Linked DNA regions of Homo sapiens. The main gene of each other region encodes a partner of the protein of the gene in region 2 in a complex. Each region holds a gene or a part of one and is shown on either strand. Other genes may lie near its edges.

Region 1 (5,140 bases), on a different chromosome or scaffold from region 2:
TTTAATCTTCATTTGATTTTTTTCTTCTTACATCCACTTTTTGGAGACAGGGACTCACTCTGTTGCCCAGGCTGGATTGCCGTAGTGCAGTCTCAGTTCACTGCTGCAGCCTCGATCTCCTGCGCTCAAGCCATCCTCCCACCCCCATCCCTATGGCTAATTTTTGTATTTTTTGTAGAGACGGGTTTTCGCCACATTGCCCAGCTGGTCTCAATCCCTGGGCTCAGGCGATCCACCCGCCTTTGCCTCCCAAAATGCTGAGATTACAGATGTGAGTCACCATGCCCGGCCCCTTTACATCTCTTTAAATGAAGGACAAATGCACGGGATGTGTGTGAAGTAGAACCTAATATTCCACAACCCGCAGATTTTCCCATACAAACCAAGACAGAATAATCTGACACTTGGAATACATGCCAAATGTTTTTCCATACAGTAGTCCCATCTGCTTCCTGAAATGCAGTCGGGAAATGGGATTCCACAGTGATTGAGTGACAAATGCAAATGACCAGATTTTCTAATTTTTTTATTCATGAGGCCCAGTCAATTCTCTTAAGAATCATGGCCCGGCATGGTGGCTCATGCCTGTAATCCCTGCACTTTGGGAGGCTGAGGTGGGTGCATCACCTGAGGTCAGGAGTTTGAGACCGGCCTGGCCAACATGATGAAACCTCATGTCTACTAAAAATGCAAAAAATTAGCCGGGCATGGTGGCGGGCGCCTGTAATCCCAGCTACTTCGGAGGCTGAGGCAGGAGAATCTCTTGAACCTGGGAGGCGGAGGTTGCGAGCCAAGATTGCACCACTGCACTCCAGCCTGGGTGACAAGAGCAAAACTTTGTCTCAAAAAAAAAAAAAAAAAAGAATCATAGGCCGGGCACAGTGGCTCATGCCTGTAATCCCAGCACTTTGGGAGGCTGAGGCGGGTGGATCACCTGAGGTCAGGAGTTCGAGACCAGCCTGGCTAACATGGTGAAACCCCCGTCTCTACTAAAAATACAAGAAAACCAGCCTGGTGTGGTGGCACGCACCTGTAATCCCAGCTGCTCAGGAGGCTGAGGCAGGAGAATCGCTTGAACCTGGGAGGTGGAGGTTGCAGTGAGCTGAGATCGTGCCACTGCACTCCAGCCTGGGCCACAGAGCAAGATTTGGTCTCAAAAAAAAAAAAAAAAAATCATAGTTCATTAATCCAGGTACACAAATACTTCTATCCCAATCCAGTCTGCTTGCGTTTCTCTAGGCTTCCCATATCCTCAAGACAGAAGCAGAGAGAACAAGGGGACATATATCCTTGCCGTGGGGTTCTGAGGGAAAATGAGGGCCAAATCTTCTGTTCAGGAGCACCTGAGAGTGCCACCCACCAGGGGCGGATTATGCAACGACTCCGTACTTCCTCCTCTGAAATCCATGGTGTGTCATCAGTACATGTCTTCACCCGGATTGACTAACATGTTCGTTCCTAACTTACCTCTGCTATAATCGGGTAGGCTCCGTGGGCACAGTAACTATTTTGTTATTTTTGCATTTCCCATAGCAGCTAGCACCTAGTCGGCATTCCGTGACTATTGAGTGTGAATGCAAGATACAAGGCCAGAAGCAGGAAGAGAGATGCAGTGTTGGGCATTCAGTCAGGCCCCTGACCACCCACTGGACAGATAGTCAGAGGAGCTGTGTTCTTCCCTCCATCACGTGTCCCAGGGCTGAAGATAGGTTGAAGGGGCCCAGAGAAAGAGCAGCTGGCGAATGTATAGATGTGGGATCTGGCTGTCACATTGTAAAAGGAGATGCTTCCAACTCTGTAGTCCACGAAGATGCCCACACGCTTGGGAGGCTCCTTTATTAGCAGGCGGGTCGGGGGAACGCTGGACGCCTGGTACTCATTTTCCTTCATCATTATCACCACCCAGTAGCCATTCTCTGGCGACAGAGTCATGTTCCCTTTCCTGCTTATGGATGTCTTGCAGGCTCCCAGGATCCATGCTGTCTTGTCTCCAACCTCCACCTCCCAGTAACGGCGGCCAGAGAGGAAACTCGGAGAGCCCAGAACAATGATACAGCTGTCAAATCTTTGCGGGCCATCAGGCAGCCTCTCCCACTTGTTTCCAAGTCTAACACTCTTCAGATCATCAGAGAAGATGAGGTTGGGGTAAGCGGTTTCTGCATCCAGAATCACATTAACTGCAAAGAAAATTTGAATACCTAGGTAGGGGTCCATGGGCAACATCCCTACAGGGTTCTCCCCACCTGCAGGAAACAGGGACAGGGTAGTTCTTCTGGAACGTGGTAGGGGAGAGCACAGGGATCCAGCAGGCCAGGGCCACTTGCCTTGATCTGGGCACTTACCAGCATGTGCCTGAGCGCCAATCAGCTCCGGAACTACGGAGAAAAATCAGATAGGGAAAAAAATCCTGAGCATTAGCATTAAGAGGGGCTAAATTACACTGTCCTGACAACAAGGAAAGACAAGGAACCCCCTGCTTAGGGCCCTGCATGCTATGTTGGGTATAATCCCGTTCCTCCCAGGAACCCAGGCCATGTTGGGGACTGTGGTCTAATGAGTCAACTCAGTCAATGAGTCACGCACAGAGCCTGGGGGGCCTGCCATGACCTTTCTCCTACCTTTGCTCCAGGTGTTTGGTTTTTTTTTTTGTCTTCTAAATAGGGCCCCTCAAGTCAACAGCACAAGGGAACACTGCAACAACCCCAGGCCAGCACACACCATTACCGCTGGACTCACCATTGAACATTTCCATTTCTGAACGCAGGGTTTCTAAAATGTGGGAAAGGGAGCAGAGAGAAGCTGGAGTTAGGTCCCTCAGCCAGGGACAGATGGAGGAGAGGTTGAAGGCAGGTCAGCAAGACCAGGGGAAGAGGAGGGAAGTGAGGGGCTCTGGGCTATGTGGATCTTAGGGAGGAAGTGAGCATGCACCTCCAATCTTCTCCCAAGCCCATCTACCTGAGAAGTACTTTGTGCTCTTCTCCACAAACTCTGACTTCTGGTGGAGGAGTTGGATCTTTTGTTTTATCTCTTGAGGAGTGGTCCACTTTTCAGGGACAGGCACTGTCTTAGCCCTAGAGACAAAAGACTGTTGACCAGAGAAGGCCGGAGCGAGGGGGTGGCCCAAGTACCCGTGAGCTGGAAATGAACTACATTCTCCACAGGGCACACCTAGCCCAGCCTGAGCTACACAAAGAAAAGTCTTCCCTGGATTCAGAGGTCTAAATGCTGGTCCTCAACTTTGGCCACAGACTGTCATGTACTGGGGTGCTTTAAAGACATGGATATCAAAACCACAAGGAGTTTTCAGAATGGACTTAAAATGACATTGATATTATCTACTAGAATTATCTATGTCAAATTGATTATACACCCCTTTCTTTCTATTGAAATAAAAAGATAATAAATGAAAAAAAAACACACACAACAAAATATCCCTTCACATCCATTAGAATGGCTATTATAAAAACAGCAACAACAGAAAAAAATAGACCAGGTATGGTGGCTCATGCCTGTAATCCTAGCACTTCAGGAGGCCGGGGCAGTGGGATCGCTTGAGCCCAGGAGTTCAAGTCCAGCTTGGGCAACATGGCGAAACCCTGTCTCTATTAAAAATACAAAAAAGTAGCCGGAAGTGGTAGCACATGCCTGTAGTCCCAGCTACTCAGGATGCCAGCTACTCAGAATCACCCGAGCCCAGGAAGCTGAGCCTGCAGTGAGCTGTGACTGTGCCACTGCTCTCCAGCCTTAGTGATGGGAGTGAGACCTTGTCTCAAGAAGAAAAGAAAGGAAGGAAGGAAGAAAGGAAGGAAGGGAGGGAGGGAGGGAAGGAAGGAAAGAGAAATGGCTGGGCACGGTGGCTCACGCCTGCAATCCCAGCGCTTTGGGAGGCCAAGGTGGGTGGATCACTTGAGGTCAGGAGTTTGAGACCAGCCTGGCTAATATGGTGAAACCCTGTCTACCAAAAAAATTAGCTGGGCATGGTGGCACGCTCCTGTAGTCCCAGCTACTAGGGAGGCTGAGGTGGGAGAATCCCTTGAACCTGGGAGGCAGAGGTTGTAGTGAGCCAAGATCGCGCCACTGCACTCCAGCCTGGATGACAGAGCAAGACGCTGTCTTCAAAAAAAAAGAGAGAGAGAGAGAGTGAAACAGAAGAAAATAAGTGATGGCAAAGATGTGGAGAAACTGGAGCCCCTGTGTGCTGCTGGTGGGAATGTGAAGCGATGCAGCCCCTGTGAGAATTAGGATGGTGGTTCCTCAAAAAAAATTAAACACAGGATAACCACATGGTCCCGCAGTTCCACTTCTGGGTAGGTACCCAAAATAACAAAGCAGGGTCTCAAGCAGATATTTGTACACCCTTGTTCATAGCAACATTATTCACAAACCAAAAGTTAGAAGAAGTCCCGATATCCATGAATGGATAAGCAAAATGTATGAACACACACTGGACTATGATTCAGCCATAAAAAGAAAATAAATTCTGATACACGTTACAACACGGATGAAGCCCGAAGACATTATGCTAAGTGAAGAAGCCAGACACAAAAGGACACCGGGATTTTGTAAAGCTCCCAGGTGATTTTAAGGCTTAGCCTCTTCCTGTCCCTTCCCTCCCCTCCCCTTCCTGCTGGGCTTAGCCCAGCTCCACTCCAAACAAGCTTCCCAAGGCCACCAGTAGGCCTGAAGGGGCAGCTTTCATCAGATGAACTGCACGGGACACAATGCACTCGGAAGGTTTCTTAGGGAGCCTCCATCTTGTTTCAGCAGGATGGGCTGAATTCACCCTTCCCAGTCTGCAGCTCCATACCCGGCCAGCCTCCCTGCTGACCAGATGCCCTTCTCCCTATCAAATCCAGAGAGGCTTTGGGAAGCTGCAGAAAAAAGGAGGAGTCTGGAATCACAGACCCCGGGGTTGGGAACATCTCCCTCCCAGGTCCCTTCTGGGACTGTCTCCCCCATATGCTTTCTGCAAGACACCCCAGGGTACACCACAGGACCTCGCTGTACCTGTGCAAGATGTCTCCAATGTCCTAGGAGAAAAAAGAAGGAAACTGTCGGTTACCAGGCTCCTAGTGGCTGGGCTGACTCCTGGCCTCTACTTCTGGGCTCCTGGACTTTTAGCTCCCCGCTGCACTTACCA
Region 2 (7,033 bases):
CCTTTTACTTCACCTGATAGAGATATGGGAGTTAAAAGAAAATTTTTCATCACTAATGGTAGTCTTTGAGCTATATAAGGTCAGAAACAAAAATATCCAAGACTGATTTCTTACCTTCAAAAAGTAGCAAGCAAGGTAAAAGCAAATAAGCAGATAACTTCCCATTTATCAGAGATTGGGTGAAATAGGACTACTATGCACTCCAGGTTAGAGTCAAAGATGCCTGCCAGTCACAAGGACCTGTAACCCGATGCTTGCGGGCATCTGTGATGAATCCTAGCCCCAGATGAAATACTCCCAGACCAAGTGGTTTGGCAGGGTCCATTCCACAGGGGCAATTTGCATCTGGCAGCTGATGATGCCCTCTGTCCCCATTATAACCCACAATCTATAATAGAGCTGCTTGGTTGCTGTATTTTCTGAAAAATAAAAAAAGACAAGCTTGTGACTATCGAAGACCCATTTACCTGTTGGTGGCAAGGAGCTGAATGGCATGGTGGGTGTATTTCCTAGATAGTTGGTCTCAGGCACTGGGATATTATGCAGACTAGGCATATGACTTGGAATTGGCCTGTACCAAACTCTGGGACCTGCTGTTCCTGGATCCAGTGGTCTTGTTCCAAAGCCATGTGAGCTATATAATCCATTGTTCTGATACAGTACTTGAGGTTGGCTGGTGAGCCCTGAGGGCTGGTGCACTGCATTACCATGACTGGCTGCACTGGAATAAGCAGTGCCTTTTCCCTCTGTATTCTGAAAATTCTCGTAAGGTCTTTGCTGTGCAAAAGGGTCATGGGAGACCCTGCGTCTCCTTTCCTCCTCTCTGTTGTAAGCCACATTCTGTCTGGGCTGCTGTTTCGTCTGCCTGTCCATGCGGCTGCCATAAAGATGGTAGTTGGCTTCGTCTTGGAGTTTACTCTGCAGGCTGGGCTCATTCTCTTCTTGTGGGTGCTCCAGGGAAGGAGCAAACCAGGACTCCTCCACAGGACCCATCCCAAGTCCCTGGGAACTGTGCAGTGAACCAGGCTGTTCTGTGGCTGAGAAGAAATGATCAACATTAGAATGGGTGTCATGAAACATTAAAAAGTAAAATAAAATCTGAGCGCCGTCATGAATCTGTATCTCAAAGTAACACACAGAAAACAAGTACGAGACCAGTCCAAAGCATTTAGGAGATGGTCCTCTTCCCACAAGCTTTACAAATAATAATAGGAGCTCCTCGCTGGCAGTAAGAGAGTACTAGGAAAATTATAGCAAGCAAGAGAAAAGCGGCTGTTGCAGGGATGATCAAGGAAAAAAGGGACTTGGTTTGGAGCAGAGAAGGTGGTTGTCTCCTTGGAGCAATTCAGGTGGAAAATAAGATCTGTGGCTGGGTGCGGTGGCTCACGCCTGTAATCCTAGCACGTTGGGAGGCTGAGGCGGACGGATCACCTGAGGTCAGGAGTTCGAGACCAGCCTGGCCAACATGGCGAAACCCCATCTCTACTGAAAATACAAAAATTAGCCGGGCATGGTGGTGCATGCCTGTAATCCCTGCTGCTTGGGAGGCTGAGGCAGAAGAATCGCTTGAACCTGAAAGGCGGAGGTTGTAGTGAGCCAAGATCACACTACTGCACTCCAGCCGGGGTGACAGACTCTGTCTCCAAAAAAAAAAGATCTGCAGCAGCTCTGTCCTAAGCATGTCCCATGAATTCTTTCATTCTTGAAGAGCCCTATGAGAGGAGGAGCAATTATGATTTGATGAGTGAAGTTTAGAAGAGGTTAAGTAATTAGCCACAGATCAGGTAGCTAAGCGGCTTCAGTATCCTATACTCTGCCATCCCTTTTGTTACAGTGAAAAAAGTATCCCTACTTGACCTGAGACCAGCCTCTCTGCTTGTACCCTGGCTGTAAGTCACTCCGAGCTCCTCAGGGACTTTGCTCTCACATATGTCCCCTTCCTTCTTCTGAACTGTCACTTCTCCCCATCAGATATATTAGGCCTTTTGTTCAGAACACTCTATGACTGGTGAGCACACTGTTACTTCATATTTCAAATACATGTAACTTGACTCTCGAATATTATTATAAATTCCTGTAAGGCAGGTGTTCACTTTTATAGTTTCTTCTGTTTCCCATATGGTCCTGAATAGTCTTTTAGAGAGTGGAGTGAATGAGTAACCAAACAAATAAATGAATAGATTTTGACCATAGTGTAATTTACCTGAATTTGACCGGCTTGAAGGTACTGCCACACAATCAAGTTGAAGAGACTGCATTCTCTTCACAACTGCATTTTCGTTTGAATACTCTTTCTATAATTAAGAGCATAAATACACACTTTAGTGAACAGCAGGAAATAGAGTCCCAGAAAATTTTAACGAGAAGAATTCATATTTTCAGAAGGTAGAAATTTCACACAGATCTTACAAGTAGTAATTTTTTAAAATTAATGTTTTTCCCAAATAGCCAAAATGATCTTTAAAAAGAACAAGGTTGTAGGACTCACACTTCCTGATTTCAAAACTTACTACAAAGCTACAGTATTCAAAACAGCGTAGGACTGGCATAAAGACAGGCACATATGCCAGTGGGGCAGAATGGAAAGCCTAGGAATAAACCCTCCTATAAATGGCCAATTGATTTTTGACAAGGTTGCCAAGAGCATTCGATGGGGGAAAACTGAATATACACATATGAAATAATGAAGTTGGACCCTTATTTCATACCATATAAAAATTAACTCACAATGGATCAAAGACTTAATTTAAGGGCTAGTGCCACAAAAATTCTTAGAAGAAAACACAGGGAAAAAGCTTCATGACATTGGACTTGGCAGCGATTTCTTGGTTATGACACAAAAGCACAAACAAAAGTAAAGAGTAAAAATAATACATCAGAATTAAAAGCTTCTGTGCATCAAAGGATACTATGAAAAGAGTAAAAAGATAACCTACAGAATAAGGAAAAAATACTTTGGGAGGCCAAGGCAGGTGGATCCCATGAGGTCAGGAGTTCGAGACCTGCCAGGCCAACATGGTGAAACCTTGTCTCTACTAAAAATACAAAAACTAACCAGGCATGATGGTGTGTGCCTGTAGTCCTAGCTACTCGGGAGGCTGAGGCAGGAGTTATCTCTTGAACCTGGGAGGCAGAGGTTGCAGTGAACCAACATTCTGCCACTGCACTCCAGTCTGGGTGGCGACAGAGCAAGATTCTGTCTCCAAAAAAAAAATAAATAAATAAAATAAAATAATGGGGAAAAAGTTGCAAACAATATATATCTGAAAACGGATGAAATCCAGAACATAAAAAAAAAAAATCCTACAACTCAACAACAAAAAACAAACAACCCAATTCAAAAATGGGCAAAGAACTTGAATAGCAGTTTCTCCATAGAAGATATACAAATGGCCAATAAGCCATGAAGATGCTCAACATCATGAGTCATAGGGAAATGCAAGTCAAAACCACCATGAGGTACACTTTCACACTCCTTAGAGTGACTATAATATAAAAATGGTAAATAAAAAGTGTTGGTAAGATGGTGGAGAAATTAGAATCCTTGTGCATTGCTGGTGGGGAATATAAAATGGTGTAGCTACCATGTAAAACAATTTTAACAGTACTTAAAAGTTAAACATGGCCGGGCATGGGAGCTCACGCCTGTAATCCCAGCACTTTGGGACCTCAGATCACCTGAGGTTAGGAGTTTGAGACCAGCCTGGACAACATGGTGAAACCACCCCATCTCTACTAAAAATACAAAAAACTAGCCGGGCGTGGTGGTGTATGCCTGTAATCCCAGCTACTCGGGAAGGTGAGGCAGGAGAATCGCTTGAACCCGGGAGGCGGAGGTTGCAGTGAGCCGAGATGGTGCCACTGCATTCCAGCCTGGGCAACAGAGGGAGACTCTGTCTCAGAAAAACAAAAAGTTATACATAGAATTACCATATGATCTAGCAATTCCACACCCGGATATATATACCCCAAAGAACTGAAGGCAGGAACTCAAAATATGGTGCAGGTGTAGTATCCCTTATCCAAAATGCTTGGGATTAGAAGTGTTTTGGATTTTGGATTGTTTCCAATTTGGGAATATTTGCATGTACAGAATGACAGATCGTGGGGAGAGGACCTAAGTCTAAACATGAAGTTTATTTGTGTTTCATATGCACCTTATACACATAGCCTGAAGGTCACTTTATACCATATTTTAATAATTTTGTGCATGAAACAAAGTTTGAGGATACTGAACTATCAGAAAGCAGAGGTGTCAGGTGTGGTATTTTCCACTTGTGGCATCATGCTGGCACTCAAAACGTTTCAGATTTTGGAGGATTTTGAATTTTGGATTTTGGGTTTAGGGATGTTCAACCTGTATATCCATATGATGGAATGTTATTCAGCCATAAAAGGGAATGAAATTCTGATACATGCTATGAAACAGATGAACCTTGAAAACATTATGCTAAGTGAAATATGCCAGACTCCAAAGGAAATACATTGTGTGATCCTTTTGCTAGGAGCTACCTAGAATTCAGAGACAGAAAACAGAATAGAAGCTACCAGGGGCTGGGAGAGGGAGGAATGGGGAGTTACCGTTTAGCAGGTACAGAGTTTCAGTTTGGGATGATAAAAAAGTTCTAGATATAGATAGTGGTAATGGCCGCACAACATTATGAATGTACTTAATGCCACTGGATTGTTCACTTAAAAATGGTTAAAATAGAGAATTTTATGTTAAGTATATTTTGCCACAGTAAAAAACTTTTTCCTTATAGGAGCAATAATCCTCATTATAGAAAACATAGAAAATTATATATTCTTAAAACCTATCCATAGTTTTGCCCTACACCCAAAGATAAAATGTTAACACTTTGGTATTTTTCCTTCAAGTTTTTTTTTTCCTAGTTTTATTTGTATTTTGCTGTTAACGATTGTCTGCTATATAAATAAGTGGTCAAAAATACTAGCTAAATGAATACATGCATGATCTAGGGGAGAATGACAGAGGGTATTAATTATGTTCACACTTTGTAGCATTCTATATATTGTTTTTGTCTCTTTGCATGTTTATTTTTAGAGATCAAATCTGCCTCTGTCGCCCAGGCAGGAGTGCAGTGGCATGGTCATAGCTCACTGAAACCTCCAACTCCTGGGCTCAAGCAATCCTCCCAGCTTGTCCTCCCAAAGAGCTGGGATTACAGGCATGAGCCACCTCACCCAGCTGTATGTTTATTGTTTTTAATTAACATGAAAAGGGTTTTTTGTTGTTTTTTTTCTTGAGACAGAGTCTCACTGTGTCCTCCAGGCTAGAGTGCAGGCTCAACCTCCAGGCTCAAGAGAGCCTGCCACCTCAGCCTCCTGTGTAGCTGGGACAACAGGCATGCGCCACCACGCTTGGCTAATTTTTGTGTTTTTTGTAGAGATCGGTTTTTGCCATGTTGCTGGTTTTGAACTGGCCTCAAGAAATCCACCCACCTCAGCCTCCCAAAGTGCTGAGATTACAGGCACGAGCCACCCTGCTTAGCCTAATATGAAAAGTATTTTTGTTATTTTAATTTTATCAAATTGATTTTCTTTTTATAGTTATTTTTATTACACAAATATGTTAAGTACAAAGTCCTTTTGAAAGATTCAAACAGGCCAGACATGGTGGCTCACGCCTGTAATCCCAGCACTCTAGGAGGCCGAGGCGAGCAGATCGCTTGAGGTCAGGAGTTCAAGACCAGCCTGGCCAACATGGTGAAACCCCATCTCTACTAAAAGTACAAAAAAATTAGCTGGGTGTGGTGGTACACGCCTGTAATCCCAGCTACTCGGGAGGCTGAGGCACGAGAATCACTTGAACCCGGGAGGTGGAGGTTGTAGTGAGCCCAGATTGTGTCACTGCACTCCAGCCTGGGTGACAGAGTAAGACCGTCTCAAAAAGAAAACCAAAAAAACCCCCAAAGATTCAAACAATGCAGAATCACATAGAATAACATCCAAACATTCCTTCAGCACCTACTCTTCCATTCTCTAGAGGTAAGCCTTATCCAGAGTGTGATGCATATCACTCTTATTCTCTCTCTAGGAATTTGCACACACATTCCAGAAATATATATATATTTGAGACACAGTTTCACTCTGTTGCCCAGGATGGAGTGTAGTGGCACAATCTTGGCTCACTGCAACCTCCACCTCCCGGGTTCAAGCAATTCTCATGCCTCAGCCTCCTGAGTAGCTGGGATTATGGACATGCACCACCATACCTGGCCAGTTTTTTTTGTATTATTAGTAGAGACGGGGTTTTACCATGTTGGCCAGCTGGTCTCCAACTCCTCACCTCAAGTGATCTGTACAACTCCGCCTCCCATAGTGCTGGAATTACAGGCATGAGCCACTGCACCAGGCCAAAATATATATATCTTTAACATTAAAAGGACCACACTGTAAGTATTGTTTTGTGACTTATTTTTTTCACTAACAGCTAATCTTGAAGATCTTTCTATATCATTACATGTTAGTTTCCACCTCTTTCTTTTAAATGGCTATTAGTATTCTGTAGTTTAGATGAATCATAATTTAGGGCAGTTACTTATGGACATTTGAGTTGTTTCTAATTTTTCACTCTTATAAACTAAGGTGCAAAGAATGGAAACTACATCTTTGAGTGCACGTGAGCAGTATAGATTACTGAGAGTAGAACTGCAGCCAAACTTATGGGCTTGTGGAGTTTGTTGGGTGCCTCACCTTCTAATAAACTTCGCCACTCTTACCAACACTGCAGAAGACTGCTTGTTATTCTGCATTTTCACCAACACACTGTATCACTAATCTTTCAAAAATTTCAATCTAATGGATGAAAAATTGTAACGGGTTCATTTTGCCTTTCTCTGTTGGCGAGGCCAAATATCTTTTCTGAAGTATGTTGTTCAGTTTCTTTTTTGAATTGTCTATGTTCTTTGTCTATTATTTTTCTTTTATTTTGGTTTTTTTGTTTGTTTTTTTGAGACGGAGTCTCACTTTGTCACCCAGGCTGGAGTGCAGTGGCTCCATCTCGGCTCAC
Region 3 (7,033 bases), on a different chromosome or scaffold from region 2:
AAAAGTGAGGGAGCTCAGTGACCAGCACAGGGCTCCCCAAATTCCTAGGGAGCATTGTACATAACAAAATGCAGATTACATTTAATGTGAGTTAAGGGGGAGACCTAGTTCAGAGATCTTATGAGTGAGTTAAAGGAGAAATTTAAAAGGAGAATTAATACTACATTTATGGATTTACCCTTAAATAATGAATTATGCACTAAGGTTTATATTTAAAAAGTACATCTTATTATTTGAAATTATAAAAAAAGAAATAATTTAAATACCTAAAAAATAGATTTGGTTAAATAAAATAGGTATAGTCACAAAAAGATTACTGTGCAAATATTAAAAATGCTTTAGAGAAATATGATAAACTGTTATAACTGATTCAATAAAGGGAAAGGTCCTAAACAGATAAACAATCTGTTTCTTATTGGATAAATAAGCAGTTAAAGCACACACACAAACACACTAGAGAGATATTTACCAACATCAATGTATTTTTTTCCTAGACGATACAATTATAGATAATTTTATTCTCTTCTCTGTGTTTTTTATTTTTCTGAATTAACAGAGATAAGACACCTCTTTTTGGTTTGTTTTGGGAGAAAATACTACTTTTTAAAAGCCACTTGCCATTTAGAACCAAAGGGAAATACAGGGCAAAACAAACAGAGGCATAAAAAGCCAAGCGTAGGAGTCTCTGAAGGGTGTCTCTGATGTGACCTGGAGCTTGGGGCAGTGGAGCTTGGGCCAGTAAGGGGCCCTGATGGGCAGCATAACTGACTGCATTTGGATCAATGCAGGGAAAGGTCAGCTCCACTGAGGTCCACTACAGAAGTCCTTCTCTTTGGTCCATGTATCTTTATTTGGGTCTTCCAGACTGAAAAATGCATATTTTCATTACTGATGAGGGAATCACACCATTTATACTTGAACCTTGTTTTCCTGAAAAATCCAGAAGTTTCTGGGCCAAACCCAGAGGAAATGGTTCCTCTAGACAAAGAGAATGAAGTATATATCATCAGTTTTTAGAGCTCACACAGGTATAAAATAATGTAATACCTGCTTCATAGGAAATGAAACTGCATGTGTGGTGGATTCTGTGCTGGGCCTTTCTAACGTTGTCTGCCACTCCCTCAGGACTAAAGTAATCATTCTCACCAATGACACTCTCCAGCCACTACTCTCTCAGCTAAATGGGGCCACCTCACCTTGTCCATGCAGGTGTATAAAGGGCTTTTTTACATTACTTTTAAAAAAGCAATTTGCTGTCAAGAACCAAGCAGAAAACAAACAGAGGCATGCCAGACCGAGTGTCAGAGTCTCTGAATTGGATCTCTGATGTGACCCAGAGCCTGGGCCTGTACAAACCACAGACTCCCTCACAAATCTTGGGAGCCCTGAAAGACATTCTCAGCTCCCGAGCTCCCTGTAGGGTAGGCCAAGGCCTCTATTGCAACTACATTGGACTTGACATTCTTCCTCTTCTTCTCCTTTCACTTCCTCACAGATATTAATTCTGAAAGTGCTCTAAAATAGACTTCCTGTAAACAACGGTCTATCTCAGAGTTTTCTTCTTATAGAATCCAAAACATAACAAAGTGTTAATGTGTCCAGAACCTGGCAGAGATTAGAAGCTCAACAGGTGTTTAATCTGATGAATCAAAGGTAGTTCCTGTTTTTGTGACTCAGAATGCTTTTCATGCTGTGGCCTTGCTTCCCTTATTTGCATGCTGTGAGATAAAGAACAGAGAACAATATGGGAAGTGACAGTGACAGTGATGCTCTTACAAGGACAAAGACCACTCCACTCTCCTTATCCTACCTTAACATGAGGAGAGACTTTTGGTGCAGCACGTTGCTTTGCGACATCATTTCTGATGGCTGCAGATGCAGCAGGACTCATTTCAGCTTGACTTAGTGGCTTTGGTTTTGTTACCGATTTGTATTGCTTATCAACTGATTAAAAAATGAAAGACATGGCCAATAAGCATATAAACATATGAGCAGTGCACATTTTCAAATGTCACCAGGAATAAATACTAAAACCATATTAAGATATCTTCAAGAACAGCTAATTTTTCTTAAAAAAAAATCATATTTTAAAATGAAAGAAACTGGACCTGGCACAGACACCAGTAATCCCAGCACTTTGGGAGGCCAAGGCTGGAGGATCACTTGAGGCCAGGGGTTTGAGACCAGCTTAGTCAACATAGGGAGACCCTATCTTTACAAAAAATATTTTCAAAATTAGCCAGGTATAATGGCACATGTTTTTAGTCCCAGCTACTTGGGAGGCTGAGGCAAGGATAACTTAAGCCCAGGAGTTCAAAGCTGCAGTGAGTCATGATTGCACCACTGCACTCCAGCTTGGATGACACAGTGAGACCCTGTCTGTCTCAAAAAAAAAAAAAAGACAAGAAACAAAAACTATGAAGTAGTAGTCGTCTTAAATTGGTATAACACTTTGGAAAATGGTTTGGGACGCTATTTATTAAAATTCAATATCTACTTACCTTAACATCCAGTAATACCATTCACAGGTGTACAGTCAAGAGAAACACACATACAAATACAAACATACAAAGATAAGTATATAAGGCTTATAATGTACATAAATATTCATAGCAGCATTATTCATAATGGCCTCCAATGACTAAAATAACAATAAAAATACACCAATTCTCTCTCTCTATATATATGTATATCAGTTTATGTGTATATGTAATTATCAATTAAATGGAATCTTATGTAGTAGTGAAAATGAATAAACTGCTGCTATGAAACAAGGGCTGATTTCTTTCTTTTTTTTTTTTTTGAGACGGAGTCTCACTCCGTCACCCAAGCTGGAGTGCAGTGGCGCAATCTTGGCTCACTGCAACCTCTGCCTCCTGGGTTCAAGTGATTCTCCTGCCTCAGCCTCCTGAGTAGCTGGGATTACAGGCTCATGCCACCACGCCTGACTAATTTTTGTATTTTTTTAGTAAAGATGGGGTTTCACCATGTTGTTAAGGCTGGTCTTGAGCTCCTCACCTCGTGATGCGCCCACCTCAGCCTCCCAAAGTGTTGGGATTACAGGCGTGAGCCACCGCGCCTGGCCACAGATTTCTAATTATGTTCTACAAGGCCTTGCATTTTCCTTCTGTCGAGGGGACCCCATCCTGCCCTCTGAAGATTCTCTGTACTGCAGCCATACTGGCCTTCTTTCAGTCCTCAAGCAAGTCAACACCTGCTGTCAGAGGGATTTTCACACAGTGTTCCCTCTGACTGAAGGTACCTTTAACTCCTATGCATTTTTCACAGCTTAGTGCAAGTCACTTCCCCATGGAACCCGCTTTGACCAACACCAACTCTAACTCCTGGCTTATGTTAATGCTCCTTTGACACATGCTGCTGAAGAACCATCTTCCTTTCCATCAGAACATTTGTCTCAGTTAGTTACCTGTCTCAGTTAATTTGCCTGTAAGAAAAATATCTACTTTCCCTTTAGAGTATAAACTGTACAAAATTTGGATTTGTTTTTAAAACCTTGTTTTATCATAAGAACCTAAAAGCTTTCCTTGTACCTATTAGCAATTCAATGGATATTTACTGAATGGATGAAGAAATGGATGGATGGGTGGCATGTTGGCTCCTCACTAATGCCTACAAAATGCAGTCGTATACTCTGGCTGGGCTCCTCCACGTCTATGGTCAGGTTATATGTTATCGTGAAAAGCCAACTCCTACTCCTGATTTTTAAAAAGACCATGTAACAAGATGGCCATGTTTGATGACTTAAGGCACTCTCAGGCAGAAGAGGGCCTGGGAAATTATTAGATGTTATTTCTGATAGAATTTGAACAATTCTGGACTGAAATAGCAAGGCAATCACTGATTTTACTAAAAAGAGAAACGATTTAATTATTAGAGCTAAGAGTAGAATGAACTGTCTTATGAGGTAGTAGGTACTCTGTCATTACCTTTCAAAGATCAGAAAGTGGTTGACTGTCTGACAGGGATATTGTAGCAGGATCTCTGCACTAGGAAGAAGTTAAACTAACCTTCCAATGGTAAGTTAGTTCCATGAAATTGGTTTCAGAAAGGTATGCAGATAAAGTCTCTCTTCTATGTTCACAGCATCGGAGAGAAAACAGCATCAAGGGAGGCGGAAGGAATCAACCTACCATTCTACCACATCACATCAGCCATATTTCATTTCACACACTGTGGTACCAATGCAATATTTGTGGACAAGCTTGTCTGCCAATTATAAATCTCTCATTTGCCTTAATAATCAGGTGCACATTGTTACTGATTATTTCATTTATCATTTTCAGCATTTTATTTTAATCTTGCAGGACTTTTGTGGACTTTGATCACATTTTCTCTTAGCTTCCTTTTTCTACGCTTATGTGTCCTTATATTTTCTCATCTTGCTTCATACAAAAGCTTCTCCTGTCTACTAATTATTGCCTCTGTCTTCATTAAAGATTCTCCAGGTATCTTCTACCTTCCATGAGGTGAGGTCATGAGTAGAATAGCATATAGCACTCTACATGCAGACATGCAATGGCAATGGAGAAGGATCACTTAACCAAGAATGACAGATTAACTGTTCAAAAAATAAAACAAAAACTGTTTTCCTAAAATAATAGAAATAGCATGGACACACAAAAATTTCCTACATTCAAAAGCGGCCTAAGTATGTCCGTGGATAGAATTTTAGAGCTATGAAGGAACTTAACTGCCTTCTTGTATAGCATGCAAGAAGCATACTTTGTGTTTTGTTGTTGTTGTTGTTTGAGACAGGGTCTCACTGTTGTTGCCCAGGCAGGAGTGCAGAGGTGTGATCTCAGCTCACTGCAACCTCTCCCTCCCAGGTTCAAGTGATTCTCGTGCCTCAGCCTCCCAAGTAGCTGGCATTACAGATGCCCGCCACCATGCCTGGCTAATTTTTGTATTTTTAGTAGAGACAAAGTTTCACTATGTTGGCCAGGCTGATCTCGAACTCCTGAACTCAAGTGATCCACCCGCCTTGGCCTCCCAAAGTGCTGGGATTAAAGGCGTGAGCCACTGCGCCTGGCCCAAAAGCATACTTTGAATCCTACAACTGTTACATTTGGAGACTCTCATTTGGGAGAGTCCTTGGATAATCTACTCCTGAGTTTCCAAGCTAGTCCCAAACTGGATCTTTTTTAGCTAAGCAGAATAACAAAATCCCAGAATCATTAGAATAGCAAAATGGGGAGAAGATTGTAGAAGGGGAAATTTTGTTCTATCCTGGTCAAAGAGAAGAATTAATTCTTGATTTATTACCAAAATAAAAGATATTTCTAAATATCTCAGCCTATGTTTGCCAATATGCCTAGATTCCTGGCTCATCCCAGATAAGAAAAACACAGGGCAATGTTTTGGTTGGTTACTTGGAAGTAACATGTGTAGTTACTGCCATCTAAGGGCCATCTCTAAGAACTACACCTTCTAACTTAAAGCCTGGGAAAACCACCACTCCTTTCTCTTTAGTGCCTTAGAAACTACCTAACAGTTTATATCTGTATAGAATTATGAATGTACATAGTATCACTTATGTGGCTTCATTTAGCCTTCCTATAACTCATGTGTGAGAAGCCATGTCACCCTTGTTGTACACCCACAAATGCTACTAAAAGCTATTATAATTTTTGCTGCTACTGTTGTACTTTGAATCCTAAAACTGTTGCATTTGGAGACTTTCATTTTGGAGAGTCCTTGAGTGATATGCTCCTCTGTTAGCTCCTTTTTGTTCTTCAGACATAAAGCTGGGACATATCAATTGTTCTTAGTAAACAAAATCAGGAATTTAAACTAAATGTAGATAATTCAGATGGAGATGAGTGATTTATTGAATAATGTAAAAAAAATCTTTGTGTTGTGGGTAATTTATACTGTCACCTGTACTGGAGATAGAGAGGAAAGAAAATCCCTGAAGGTGGATTCTCCCTCCCTTCTGAAGAAGGAGGAGATCATCGCCTAAAGAAGGATAGTCTGGGACCACAGAAAGCTGGGGACAAGGAGAGGAATAGACAGACTGTGTGAAGGAAAAAAGGTGCTCAATATCCTGGTTTACAGTTTTCCAATGCAATAATTTATACTTTCAAGACTTCAGTAGAATGTGACAGCATTACATACTGTGTAAATGGAGTTGGGAGAAGTTAACTTTGAAATTCTACGTCCATATTCACTGCAACTGAACTGGAGACAAAGATGGGCAAGGAGAAAAGATGTTAAATGGAAGTGGTAACCCTAAGGCTGGAAGAAGAGATGCAAACAAAGGCTGGAATGGATTTGTGGAATTTGTAACAAACACTTCCTAGAAGCGATTCTCAGTAAAAGGGGGCAAAGAGACAGGTGCACTAAGTTAGCAAACAAATTCCAACAATGTGCACTGGGGGTCATATCCCAGGGATGCCATGAAAGGAAAGGCCCAGGCTTGGCAGAAAAAGGGACGGGGCAGGTGTGGAACTCCCACATTACCTTTCTCCTTCTCCTCCTGAAGACGTTTTGCCAAAAGCATATAATTCAACTTCTGAAAAATACGAATGGTCTTCATCACTGCAGACACCGCCCCAGCATTTTGAATCATCAAGGTAGCTACTTGTATTCTGTTTGCAGTATGTAGTTTGCCTGTGGCAATATTAAACTCGTCTGAAAGAAAGAACTTAAACCTATCCAGTTCCTCATCAGTGATGTTATCCAGGCCTGTTAGCAAGAGTATCTCCTTGTATTTACTCTCCATCTGACAACTTTGGGATCAGCCTATAAGGAATCCAAAACATGTAAGATTACACCACCAAAAGTGATTCTACATTCAAAATAAAGCAAGGTGAGCTATTAATATTTTTTAAAGAAAAATAAAATATTTGCAGTAGTAAAAGAGATTTGAGTAGGACATAGGTAAGAACTTCTTAAGCAAGGTGATCACTACTCCTGGGAAAGACATCTTCAGAAAGTATACAACACCTCTGGAATTCTCAGAAAACAAGATACATTAGCTGGGCGCGGTAGCTCACGCCTGTAATAATCCCAG

Evidence for each region.
Region 1: RIPK1 (region 2) and MEFV share a complex: the UniProt entries of both Homo sapiens proteins name them as parts of the AIM2 PANoptosome complex.
Region 3: RIPK1 (region 2) and AIM2 share a complex: the UniProt entries of both Homo sapiens proteins name them as parts of the AIM2 PANoptosome complex.

Annotation. Positions count from the first base shown.
Region 1 is NC_000016.10:3,241,518-3,246,657, forward strand, and holds the end of MEFV (pyrin), read right to left. Parts: intron 5,031-5,140; coding exon 5,008-5,030; intron 3,072-5,007; coding exon 2,956-3,071; intron 2,770-2,955; coding exon 2,737-2,769; intron 2,551-2,736; coding exon of another isoform or gene 2,376-2,550; coding exon 2,343-2,375; intron 2,178-2,342; coding exon 1,624-2,177; 3' UTR 510-1,623; downstream 1-509. UniProt on the Homo sapiens protein: Involved in the regulation of innate immunity and the inflammatory response in response to IFNG/IFN-gamma.
Region 2 is NC_000006.12:3,099,486-3,106,518, reverse strand, and holds part of RIPK1 (receptor-interacting serine/threonine-protein kinase 1), read right to left. Parts: intron 2,295-7,033; coding exon 2,204-2,294; intron 1,098-2,203; exon of another isoform or gene 1,038-1,097; coding exon 468-1,037; exon of another isoform or gene 1-467. UniProt on the Homo sapiens protein: Serine-threonine kinase which is a key regulator of TNF-mediated apoptosis, necroptosis and inflammatory pathways.
Region 3 is NC_000001.11:159,066,758-159,073,790, forward strand, and holds part of AIM2 (interferon-inducible protein AIM2), read right to left. Parts: intron 6,763-7,033; 5' UTR 6,743-6,762; coding exon 6,481-6,742; intron 1,945-6,480; coding exon 1,811-1,944; intron 1-1,810. UniProt on the Homo sapiens protein: Sensor component of the AIM2 inflammasome, which mediates inflammasome activation in response to the presence of double-stranded DNA (dsDNA) in the cytosol, leading to subsequent pyroptosis.